Homo sapiens: one gene and its partners. The protein of the gene in region 3 purifies or fractionates together with the protein of the main gene of each other region. This does not show direct contact. Each region holds a gene or a part of one and is shown on either strand. Other genes may lie near its edges.

Region 1 (3,500 bases), on a different chromosome or scaffold from region 3:
GATGATTTAGGTTGGTTAAGAGCAAAAGAAAATACAGAAAAGCCCATTTATAACTTTTCCTGTTAAAATGTTTATCTTTTAAAATTCCATGCTATTGCACACATACAATAGTATTTTCTTTTGCCTCTACTTTAGAAAAAGCACTACAAAGGGGTTCCTGTGCAGATTATTTCCAACAACTTACGCACAATTGGAAGGCTTAGCTCAAATTTTCCATAATAATTTACTTTGTGCTCAGAATAGTCACATGATGTTTAAGCCACCAGAAAAAAATTCCTTAGAAAACTGTAATCATAGTCTGACATTCCATAAGAGGCAACCATATTTCTTAAACACAGAATAGAGGGTTAAAATGCTTATTTTTCTCTTTTAAGGGCTTTAGGAAAGAATAAATAGTTACAAATTTAGTAATGAAGAAAGTCCACAGGGCTTTTCTAAGGACTAGTCATAAATCATGCTAAGCCATCTGCGATGCAGATATACCAGGGACAGGAAAAAGTCATTTTGATATCGTTTTGCATTATGATAACCTTTGCAGGAGTGTTGAGTGCATTTTTGCTAATGTTGACAGAATTGTACTTCTTCCAAAGAGACAAGTGAAAATGTCTGCCTAGCAGCACAGTTCAACTGGTGTTGTTGGGTCTGAAATTCTTAATAATTGACCAGATGGAGAAGATGGAACTCTCTCTGGTTATTGAACCTGTTAGCTTTGATCCCTTGTCAATCACACCATGATGGAGGAAGAAAAAAACAAAATATTTCTAAAAAAGTAAATATGCTCCTCATAGGAATCTAACCTGCAGTGCTGGGAAAATTAAAACTGGATTGAATTCTACATTGTTTTATTATATCCATGTTGAAAAAGCCCAGGCTACTCTTCATGCATGATTCCATTTAGATAAAAGAAGGCCACAAAAGAAGTGCTGGGTATAGCCCAGTGACTTGGAGGACCTTATCATAACAAATTTATGCATCTGGAAGCTCACAGAAGACATCAGTCTGTGGAACCCTACATTTCTCCAGTAACGAGTCGCTGTAAGAAAACTTATTTTAGTGGACAAACAAGCTTTGTGGTCAAAGATACCACATACTCTAAAAAATGTTAGACATTAGGTTTGTAATCATATTACGATCAAACATATTTAAATTGGTAACCTTTTAAGTTAGAATCATCAGTTTTCTTAGCTGTGCACCCTAATCAAAGTCAAACCAAACTTATTTAATGAGAAAATACTTGTCTTTCCTTTACCAAAGGGAAAAAAAAATTACCACATGCCTTCCATAGCATACAAACACAAAGGTTATATTTTTTGCATTATTAACTACATTTTTTCACATGTAGAAATTCTGAACTGATGACACAAGGCACACCCCAAAATATAGTATTTTGACCTAAACTCTTAAATTAGTGATATAATGCATATTTCCTGAAACAAAGCCTATTACATAGCTCATGACCGATAATCATAAAGAAGACCAACAAAAAACAATAAAGAACAACAACTATAAACAATATATAGAAATATTCATAGCCTGGCTTTGCATACCAAAGCATTCTAATAAGATATTTGCTAGAAGAGTAAATATTTCTGCATAGAATGCATGCTAATAAGTGACCCAGACATTATGTTGTTGGAACAGCAAAACTGACAAGGATAAAAGCTTTATATAAAACAGGCCAAATGACAGAATCCCAATAGACTATCTCTAAGCACTATGTCTAACTTACTTATTGATATCCCTGAGAGGAGAATTTAGAGGTCTCTTCAAGCTAACCAATTTACTTTGGTCTTAACTTAATAGACAAATTAATGCAAACCTCCAGACAACCCACGTTGTAAAAAGTCTAACAGATTGCTCTTTGGAAATGAAAGAAAGAGCCCAAAGTGACATTAACATCCAAAAATACAATCAAATACAGAAATTAACCAATCAAAAGCCTAACAAATTAAAAGAAAATCCCAATGTAGGAACAGCCAGTATAAAAATGGAGAACAATTCCTTCCCCCACCCCCAATCAAAGAAAAAACTAACCAGCCGAGTTGGGAGTTGAGGGCGAGTTAGCTTGGCTTCCATGGGCTGACACATTGGTAGCAGTGACAGCTGTTTTGGCAGCATAAATATTGGCTTCCTCTTGAAATTTACCTATGTTCTTCTTGTACCGGATTCGCTTATTTCCAAACCAGTTTGATACCTAGAGTAGTTTAAGAGAAGATGAGAAAGTTCACATTTCATCCTTCAGAAACATTGCAGAAGAAAAAAAAGGCTTTATGGGAGAGGTGAAGAGGTAAGCTAATTGGTCTTATCCTATAATAATTTGGCAACATCAGTAAAAAGATCTGAAGTAAGAGCTTCAAAAGGACAACTACATAAAATGCGATTCTCTTGTTTAATATAACTGAAATTTAGCGAAACCACTGTGACAAAAATCTTCCTATAAAGGAGCTGCTCATTTAAGCTAGAACCCTTTTAATTTAGAGCAAGCATTTTAAATTTGCTTACATCTTCAGTTATGACACTAAAATATACCTAACATTTCAGGAGAAATGCCCCTAGCGTTTATCAATGTGAAAGCTGGCTTGATGCCATCAAGATACACAGATCTTTAAATGTCCATATAGGTGCTTTCGTGTGATAGATTAATTGCAAATTTTTAGAAGTTACATAACTTTAATGTGGACTGAGATTCTTAGCTGTATTTCACTATAGACCTTAGGATCAATATAATTCAATCTACCAGATTTCACTGACTATTTTGTGTAAAGCTTAGTGTTATCTACATAAGGAAAAACTGTAGCATACAAATGATTATCCCCTTGAATTCTAGGGTTTAAATGTTAAAGCCAGCAGACACAATAAACCTAATTTACTTTCATTTGTTAATTTATTTCCTTCATGTGGTTCGCAGCAGGTGTCTTGGCTTGATCTGGTACCTCTGCTCCCTTCATACCAAGACCTCTGCCAGACACAAGTGGAGACACAGTTAAATTCAAGTTTTACCCCCATAATTCCTGCCCGGGGAAGGAAAGTTTTATATCCCACATTCCAGATATGATTTTGAACTAAAATGTCGATGTTTTTATATAATTACAAAACAAACTATGAATCTGGTGAGGGAAGGGGGAGTTGATCCCACATGTACCACAGCTTACATATCATTGATATTTAACTCCCAACGACGGCAGATAAAGAAAACTGTTGCAAAACTATACTTAATTTTTTAAACGCATTAACAAACTTAAAACATCTTATAAGGATAGCACTGAAAGGCTTATACAGTTTATACTACAGCAGAAATGCCAAGCCTTTCTTTTTTAAAAAAAAATCAGTCTGTACCACCACAATATTAAACAAAAAAGAAAAAAATTCAATAAGAAAATGCTTTATTTATTGTAAACACTGATGTCTACAGAAAAAGAGGTAAACTGGAGGAGGAAGGACACTTTTGGGTGTATTTCAGGATCACTGCATATCTAGTTTCACTTTGAAATTTATGTTTT
Region 2 (3,500 bases), on a different chromosome or scaffold from region 3:
TACCCAATGTTTTTCTTGTAATATGTGGATTTGTTTAAAAGTATTTAAATTTTTTAATTGCCATGTTACTGACCTTAATGATTTCCAAAATAAAATAGGTATTAAGAGTTGCTTAATTATACTTCTTTAATATAACAACCAGGACATGTATTTTAACTTTGTGTAAATCATCTAGAGTTATTTCCATGTTAGTACATTTTGTGTAGGTATATTTCTGAGTGGGGCATTTACAGTGATAAAGAATTACATAATACCTTAAATTTGGTAAATAATTGACAGATATTTTAAAGTATATTCATAAAGCAGTAAAACCTCTTGTATTATGTTATCTTTAAATTATAATTAAGAAGGTTTTCTATATGGCTGTGTACACATTATCAAAATTGAACTTTTAGCACAAAAAGTTCAACTATTTGTATCAGTTATTTTTGTCAATTATTGGTTATTATGTTGCATTAAAACTATGGTAGTGAATATATTGTATTAAAAAAAAGAAAGGACCAAATGCCATATATTTGGGGTGGAAATTTGAGCCACAGTTGTGTATACTTACTTTTGCAATAGAAATCTATGTCAGATAGCCTAATAGTTTGGAAAACTCTTAAGATGCTAAAATGTCACAGCACAGTCAGGGATATGTATGACATTCAGTAGTATAAACAACAAAGTGTACATGAAACGTCCGTTAACGTTAAGTAATTGGAGTGAGAGTAGGAAAATGCTAATATAAAGGGGCTAGATTCTCTGCCCATTTTACGTCTAACTTAATATTTTCATTTTAACTAATTTTATTTCTCCCATTTTGTGAATGGGCTACAGGACTAAACTAATAACATTAGTTATACAAATCATTCCTATGTAAAATACTTTTGGTGTGAAATTAGAGTGAATAAACTTTTTATTATGATTGGGATTTTTTTCTTTTCGTTTCTGATGCCATCCGTTTAAGAATCAGTGTTCCAGAACAATTGGTATAGCTTTGCATGTTTCTGGCTGGTCGTGACAAATCAGCCACTGTACACTCATAGACAGCAGTACAGTACTTGTCACTGGTGGCCTTTCTGTGACAGAGAGCCTGAAGACTGACGTAAAGCGCAGCCTGTTGTGAACTGTCAAGTGAGTCTGCCAAAAACTCAGCAGACAGAACTAATTGCAGAGAAAAAGGACTTTTGTGCCCTCTTCTCTTTCTTTCCTTTCCTTTTTTTTTTTTTTTAATAAGACAGATATTGTTAAAGTAGCTTGTTTATGTAAGATTTGTCTGTCTCTCCTCTCATTGCCTGGATCCTTTTTTAACTTAAAGTCTTGCACTGCAGGTCGTTGAGGACTTCCACATGGAGATTGGCACAGGACCAGACTCAAGACACACAACTCATAACAGTTGATGAAAAATTGGTAAGGATTTTCTACTACACACTGCTATGGTTCTGCCTTCAGGGTTATTTTTGTACTATAGATATTCAGTATGGTGTTCCAGGTTTTCAGGAAAGTGATTTGAATTTGAATTTCTAGATTATACCTAAATTTTAAGAAGAAATATTTGTCATCAAAAGATAATTTATATTAAGCATTATAAACAAATACAAAACCATATGCAAATATTAATAAATTAAAATTATGAAAGGTTTTCATTTTTGTGGTGTTTATAACTAGCAGAACATTCATTACTTTTTGTAATGAATGTTTTGCTTTTTATTTTCTCAGTTACACTCCTATTTAAGTTGTGAGATACTTGCTAGTACTATCTAAAACTAAATATATTAGGTTTTCTTGGAAGCATGCAACATTTATTATCACTATATGTATATATGTATATGCATACAAACACATACACACACATTTTATTTCTTCATATGTATGAAGAAATAACTAGCAAGCAACTAGCAAACAACTAGCAAGACCAGCAACAAATGAGTAATAATGTTTTGTGAATCAGTAACAAACAGAATTTTGGCAGCCATCACTTATAAAATATTTTAGAGTGTGGTCTGTTACTTTACATGCAACTTTATATTTATGCTTCAATAGCATACATTTTGTAATGTTTCCAAAACTTCTGATAGAAATGAGTAATTGTATATGTGTGCTTTTCATTTTATATCTGGTTTACCATTATCAGTGTTTCTTAACTACCCCCTTTATTATTGTACAGTATTTTATCACTCAACTTTGAGCCTGTAAGCCCAATCTAAGTAATAGGTCACACTTAAATTTCTATTTGCACCATTAAAGATACAGACAAATAAATGTATAAGTAAATAGAGACAGTTTGGAAAATTCACATCTTGTGCTGACTGGTTTTATTTTAAAATTATCTCTTCAGTTTACCTACTGACATTGTCATCATCCTGATCTAGGTTACATCATCTTTCACCTAGATTTCTACAGTAGTCTTTGACCTGATCTCCCTAGACTCTTTAATCCTAATCTGATTAATTTTCCTTAGGATGCCAAAATAGTCTTTGAAATGCTGGTATTGTCACCCTCTTTTCGTCCTTTGGTGCTTCCTGTTGCCCTTAGAGTAAACACTAAAATCCTAACATGGTCTTTGACGTCTTGCCTGATTTAGCTCCTGCCTTCCTCTCTAGGTTTATCTTGTACCACTGTGTTTTACATTCTGTGGTCTAGCCACACCAAGCCTGGAACTTGCTACTCTTTTTCCTGCTTCAAGGCATTTGGAGTTCCTGTTCACTCTACCTGGATGCATTTTAACTAATCCTGAGGACTTCATCCGGTCACCATCTACCTATTCTTCAAATGGTAATCAAACACCACTTGCTTAGTCAAGTATAAAAGAAATGAGGGGCAGGGCATGGTGGCTCATGCCTGTAATCCCAGCACTTTGGGAGGCTGAGGCGGGTGGATCACGAGGTCAGGAGTTCGTGACCAGCTTGACCAACATGGTGATACCCCGTCTCTACTAAAAATACAAAAAATTAGCTGGGCGTGGTGGCGGGTGCCTGTAATCTCAGCTACTCAGGAGGCTGAGGCAGGAGAATCGCTTGAACCTGGGAGGTGGAGGTTGCAGGGAGCCGAGATCGCACCATTACTCTCCAGCCTGGGCAACAAGAGTGAAACTCAGTCTGAAAAACAAAACAAAAGAAATGAGGCAGTTATGTGTGTATGAAGTGAGGATGATTTTCACATCCTGTGTGTTCATTAATGAGAGCACTATTATTTTAATTTTTCCTATGAGCATCTTTTTTTAACTCTCAGGAGGTTGCCTTTTCTATAAAGTTTTCAAATTTTAGAGTTCACTAATAACTCTTCTAAGTTCTCTTCTTTCTAGTTTGAAGAATGAGTGAGTCAGCCAGTAATACATTGCCCTAAACAGAGTGCTATGAAGCATACAAGAGAGGTAGACAGACTGGATTGGTTTGGTATTTTTAATTATATGTCATAAAATCGGTTGCATACTGTTGAATTTTCTTGCCCTACCTAGATTTTCCCCAGCTTTGTTATACCTTTCTTGAAGTAATAGTTGTCCCTCAGTACCTGTAAGG
Region 3 (3,500 bases):
TGCAATCCTCTCAGAACCACAGCCTAATGGTGCTTGTAAGGATGGAGCTTTGGTTTTGTATAATGAAAACACCAATACGGTGCTTTCGAGGTCCAAATTAGATATACTCATCCTGTACAAATGCAGAGAAGTGCCAAAATGGCTATCTTATCTATGTATTTAATGGATTTGGAAGTACCTTTTGTATATGTTTTTCCAAATTATTGGTTCACCTTTGAATCCCTAGAACAGGTATCATACACTCCAGATTCTGACTGACGATGGATCAAGCTTTCTTTTCCTTACCTCTCCCTATCTACATATCAGAGTGTTTTGGCAATTATATTAATTTTCTAAAAAAGATTACAAACCTAACAGGTGGAAAAGTGGTCTTTGTTATAGTACAAATAAATATTACCTATTTGTCCTCTTCACCATGGTTTCAACCCACCACTATTGGATTTGAAATATCTTTCTTCTCTCTAAGTATTCTCTGTATGCCCCCCCTCTTTTTTTTTAAGAACCAGGAAAACATAATGGCAAGTTATTTAAGATTTAAAATGTTATGCAGCAAATAAATAGGACGCTGTTGAACCCCAAGCTCAGGTGTGAATTCAATGGATGCATTTTGGCTTTTCTTTCAATTCCGTGAGCTGAACAAATCATGCTTGGAAAGAATGAGAAGAATCTGCCAATAACACATTCAATCATCATGATAAAAACATGCAAACCAAAAAGATAGTCTTCATTTGGGTCTAGATAGCAATTAGAGTTATAGGAGGACTCCTCTCCATCAGAAGCGTAGATCGCCTCACTCAGGGGAAAGTCCCAGGTCAGATATTTTAACTTTTTATTTCATCTTGGCCATCTTCACACCCAGTAAACCCCTCTGTCTGATGTGAGGCAAGCCCAAAGCCATGCCATGTAAATACCGCTCTCTACCTGGAACTCTCCTAGTGTCCTACCTTTCTAGCTTGTTCTGAAAGTCTTCTATTTGTAAACCAATGCTCTGACAATAGGGTGTGGTGAGCGATTATATGTTATTAGTTTTTCATATTCGATCGTGAATTAAGAGCTAATTAACTAGGAGCAAATCCGTAACTTAACATGACGTCAACTGGATTGGTCAGCACAGAAGGTTTAGTTCAGGTTGGGTTCCCATCTTGGGGAATGGCCGAAGGTGGAGGACCACCTGAACACATAGGAGGGCCCTTAGTGTATGCGGGCATCATGCTGGAAGGGAGAGAAAAAGAAGTAGAGAAAACACAAATGGGCAAATGAAAGAGATTGGTTAAGACCCAGCCTTGCTTATCCTCAACATTTGAAAATGGCTGGTGAAACTAATCTGCCAAAGCATTTGACCTTGGTCTCTGCCCTGTTTCCTAAAAATGACACAAATGGTCTGGGCATGGTTGACTATATAAGGCATGGAACTTCTATGACACATGATGCACATTATCTTCAAGCTATGGGACTCCATGCACATTAACATAAGTGTACAGAAAGCCATTTGTTTCTTTATGTGAAATGAAACCTCAAGGGCACACATTGCCTCTATCTTTGTTAAAGGTGGGCTCTAATACTGGTCTATCCACAAGAAAACCAAAAGATGAAAGAAGAAAATAAGCTTCTTTTCATCTCAATGTTCTGCAAAGAAGAATATTTTTCTACCAACCTGTTAAGGGCACATGCTCATTCATAGGACACTTAATGTAGAAAATAACCAAAGGGAAGAGGTGGAAGGTGGCAATTACTAAAAGTAAGCTGCAAAAAAGCATTCATTACAAGTAACAATCATAAAGACAACTTTAAGCTATTCATGAGCTGATTAAGGAATCTCTATATAGTAACTACTTCTAGCACTCTCCAATCTTTCTTCCATTGCTCAACTTTTTGTCACTTTATAAGTCATTGGCATTGCTATGGAAAGGTGGGGTGGTGAAATGGAATGGTGACAGAAGTTAGTATCTAATAATTAAAATGAAAGATAGCCTTGGCTGGACACTGGAGCTTGCCTTGGGTAATTCAGGATTATGGATGATGAAGGCCTAAAAAAAGCAGTAGTAATCTGTGAACTTTATCTCTCTAAACCCGTTTTATTCTAGTTCCCAGCTCTAAACTAGAGGACTTAAGAGAATGATTAGGACTTAGTTTTCATGTTCTGGTCTTTCATTAAAATAAATCCTACTCCAGCAAGCTACTATCCTGCTTGGCATTGGGAGATGCTAGCTGCCTCTAAGCAGACCCATCTCCCTGTAAGAAAGCTCCTCACCAGGCTAATCGCAATGCCTCAGAGCAAACCCATACCTGCAGAGCTATTCTTCATCCACGTCTGTTACAAACTGTGAATGGTGTTCGGGTGACTTGCTGTGCGTTTTGCTTAGGTGGAGTTTTACCGCATGTTTGCTCACAAATGTCCGACAGCACAACTTACACTTGAATTTAGAGTCTGTGTCCTCTTCGGCAGCTATTGTTTCTGGAGACCTCTGAGCCGACGATACCCGGGAGATCTCTTGCTCCACCTTGCTTTGCTGGTCCACTGACAAGCGGGTCATGTCCTTCATTTGGAAACCCAGGTGAGATTCTAAGTGACTGATGTAGGTAGAAGGGGTTCTGAACTGGGAGGCACAGTCACTGCAATAAAAGATGGGGTGGCCTTTGTCCATGTTTTTCAGAAATTTTGTCCCGCCCGTTTTCCTAAGCTGGTACTTGACGTTGGCCAGCCAGTGACTGATAGTGGTCATTGAGAGTCCCGTAAACTTAGAGATTTGCATACGCTCTTGTGGGCCCAGATCAGACAGCAGGTATTTGCCCTCTGATGTCTGGAAGAGGCTCGAGGCAAACTGGGCTTGTAGAATCAGAAGATGCTGAGGATTCCAGTTGGACTGCCGGCCTTTTCTTTTATGCAAAGTTGAGACTTCACTGGAGACATCCTCAAAGCGCCTGACATCCATTTCCAGCTTCATGGGGGGGACCCTGGAGGAGGAGGCTGGCTTTGGGGTGGTGGCTTTGGGGAGGACTTTGACCATGTCGGCGATGTCAGACAGAGCGTGCTTCTGAGGTGGGGACATACAAGATTGTGCTTGCGAGGACTCGGCTTTCTTGCTTTTGGACTTGGTCAGGTCAATGGGCTGATCGCTGTTCTCAAACAGGTAGCGCCTGGACACGCTGGCTGACCTTGTGGAGGCAGGACTCAAGACCGGCTTGTCCATGACATTGAGATTCGACTTGTGGAACATGGAAATTGTGCTTGAACTTGGGCTGGAGCAGGAAGGTGAGCGCAAGGGCTCCGTGGCTTTGCCCAAGTGATTGTTCAGGACGGACTGCAGGGCGCTGAGTGGGTTGATGCATGGCAGGGCCGGGGCGTGGTTGGCGAGGGCGCACCCATTGCTCAGAGCAGATGTGGGCTCCAGGGGCTGGGGTTTCTCCTTCTCGCTGCCCTCTTTCATCAGCTTCTCCTCCTCCTTCAGGGGACCCAGCTCGGTCTTTTTGGCTTCTGGAGGTGTTTCACTTTTGCGGAA

Evidence for each region. The genes of interacting proteins can lie anywhere in the genome.
Region 1: the proteins of TSHZ2 (region 3) and PBX1 purify together in Homo sapiens (affinity purification with mass spectrometry; one large-scale study listed by BioGRID and IntAct). This does not show direct contact.
Region 2: the proteins of TSHZ2 (region 3) and NDUFS4 purify together in Homo sapiens (affinity purification with mass spectrometry; one large-scale study listed by BioGRID and IntAct). This does not show direct contact.

Annotation. Positions count from the first base shown.
Region 1 is NC_000001.11:164,810,684-164,814,183, reverse strand, and holds part of PBX1 (pre-B-cell leukemia transcription factor 1), read right to left. Parts: intron 2,195-3,500; coding exon 2,035-2,194; intron 1-2,034. UniProt on the Homo sapiens protein: Transcription factor which binds the DNA sequence 5'-TGATTGAT-3' as part of a heterodimer with HOX proteins such as HOXA1, HOXA5, HOXB7 and HOXB8. Binds to the DNA sequence 5'-TGATTGAC-3' in complex with a nuclear factor which is not a class I HOX protein.
Region 2 is NC_000005.10:53,602,139-53,605,638, forward strand, and holds part of NDUFS4 (NADH dehydrogenase [ubiquinone] iron-sulfur protein 4, mitochondrial isoform 1 precursor), read left to right. Parts: intron 1-1,313; coding exon 1,314-1,392; intron 1,393-2,585; exon of another isoform or gene 2,586-2,757; intron 2,758-3,500. UniProt on the Homo sapiens protein: Accessory subunit of the mitochondrial membrane respiratory chain NADH dehydrogenase (Complex I), that is believed not to be involved in catalysis. Complex I functions in the transfer of electrons from NADH to the respiratory chain.
Region 3 is NC_000020.11:53,255,358-53,258,857, reverse strand, and holds part of TSHZ2 (teashirt homolog 2), read right to left. Parts: coding exon 2,295-3,500; 3' UTR 2,287-2,294; intron 1-2,286. UniProt on the Homo sapiens protein: Probable transcriptional regulator involved in developmental processes. May act as a transcriptional repressor.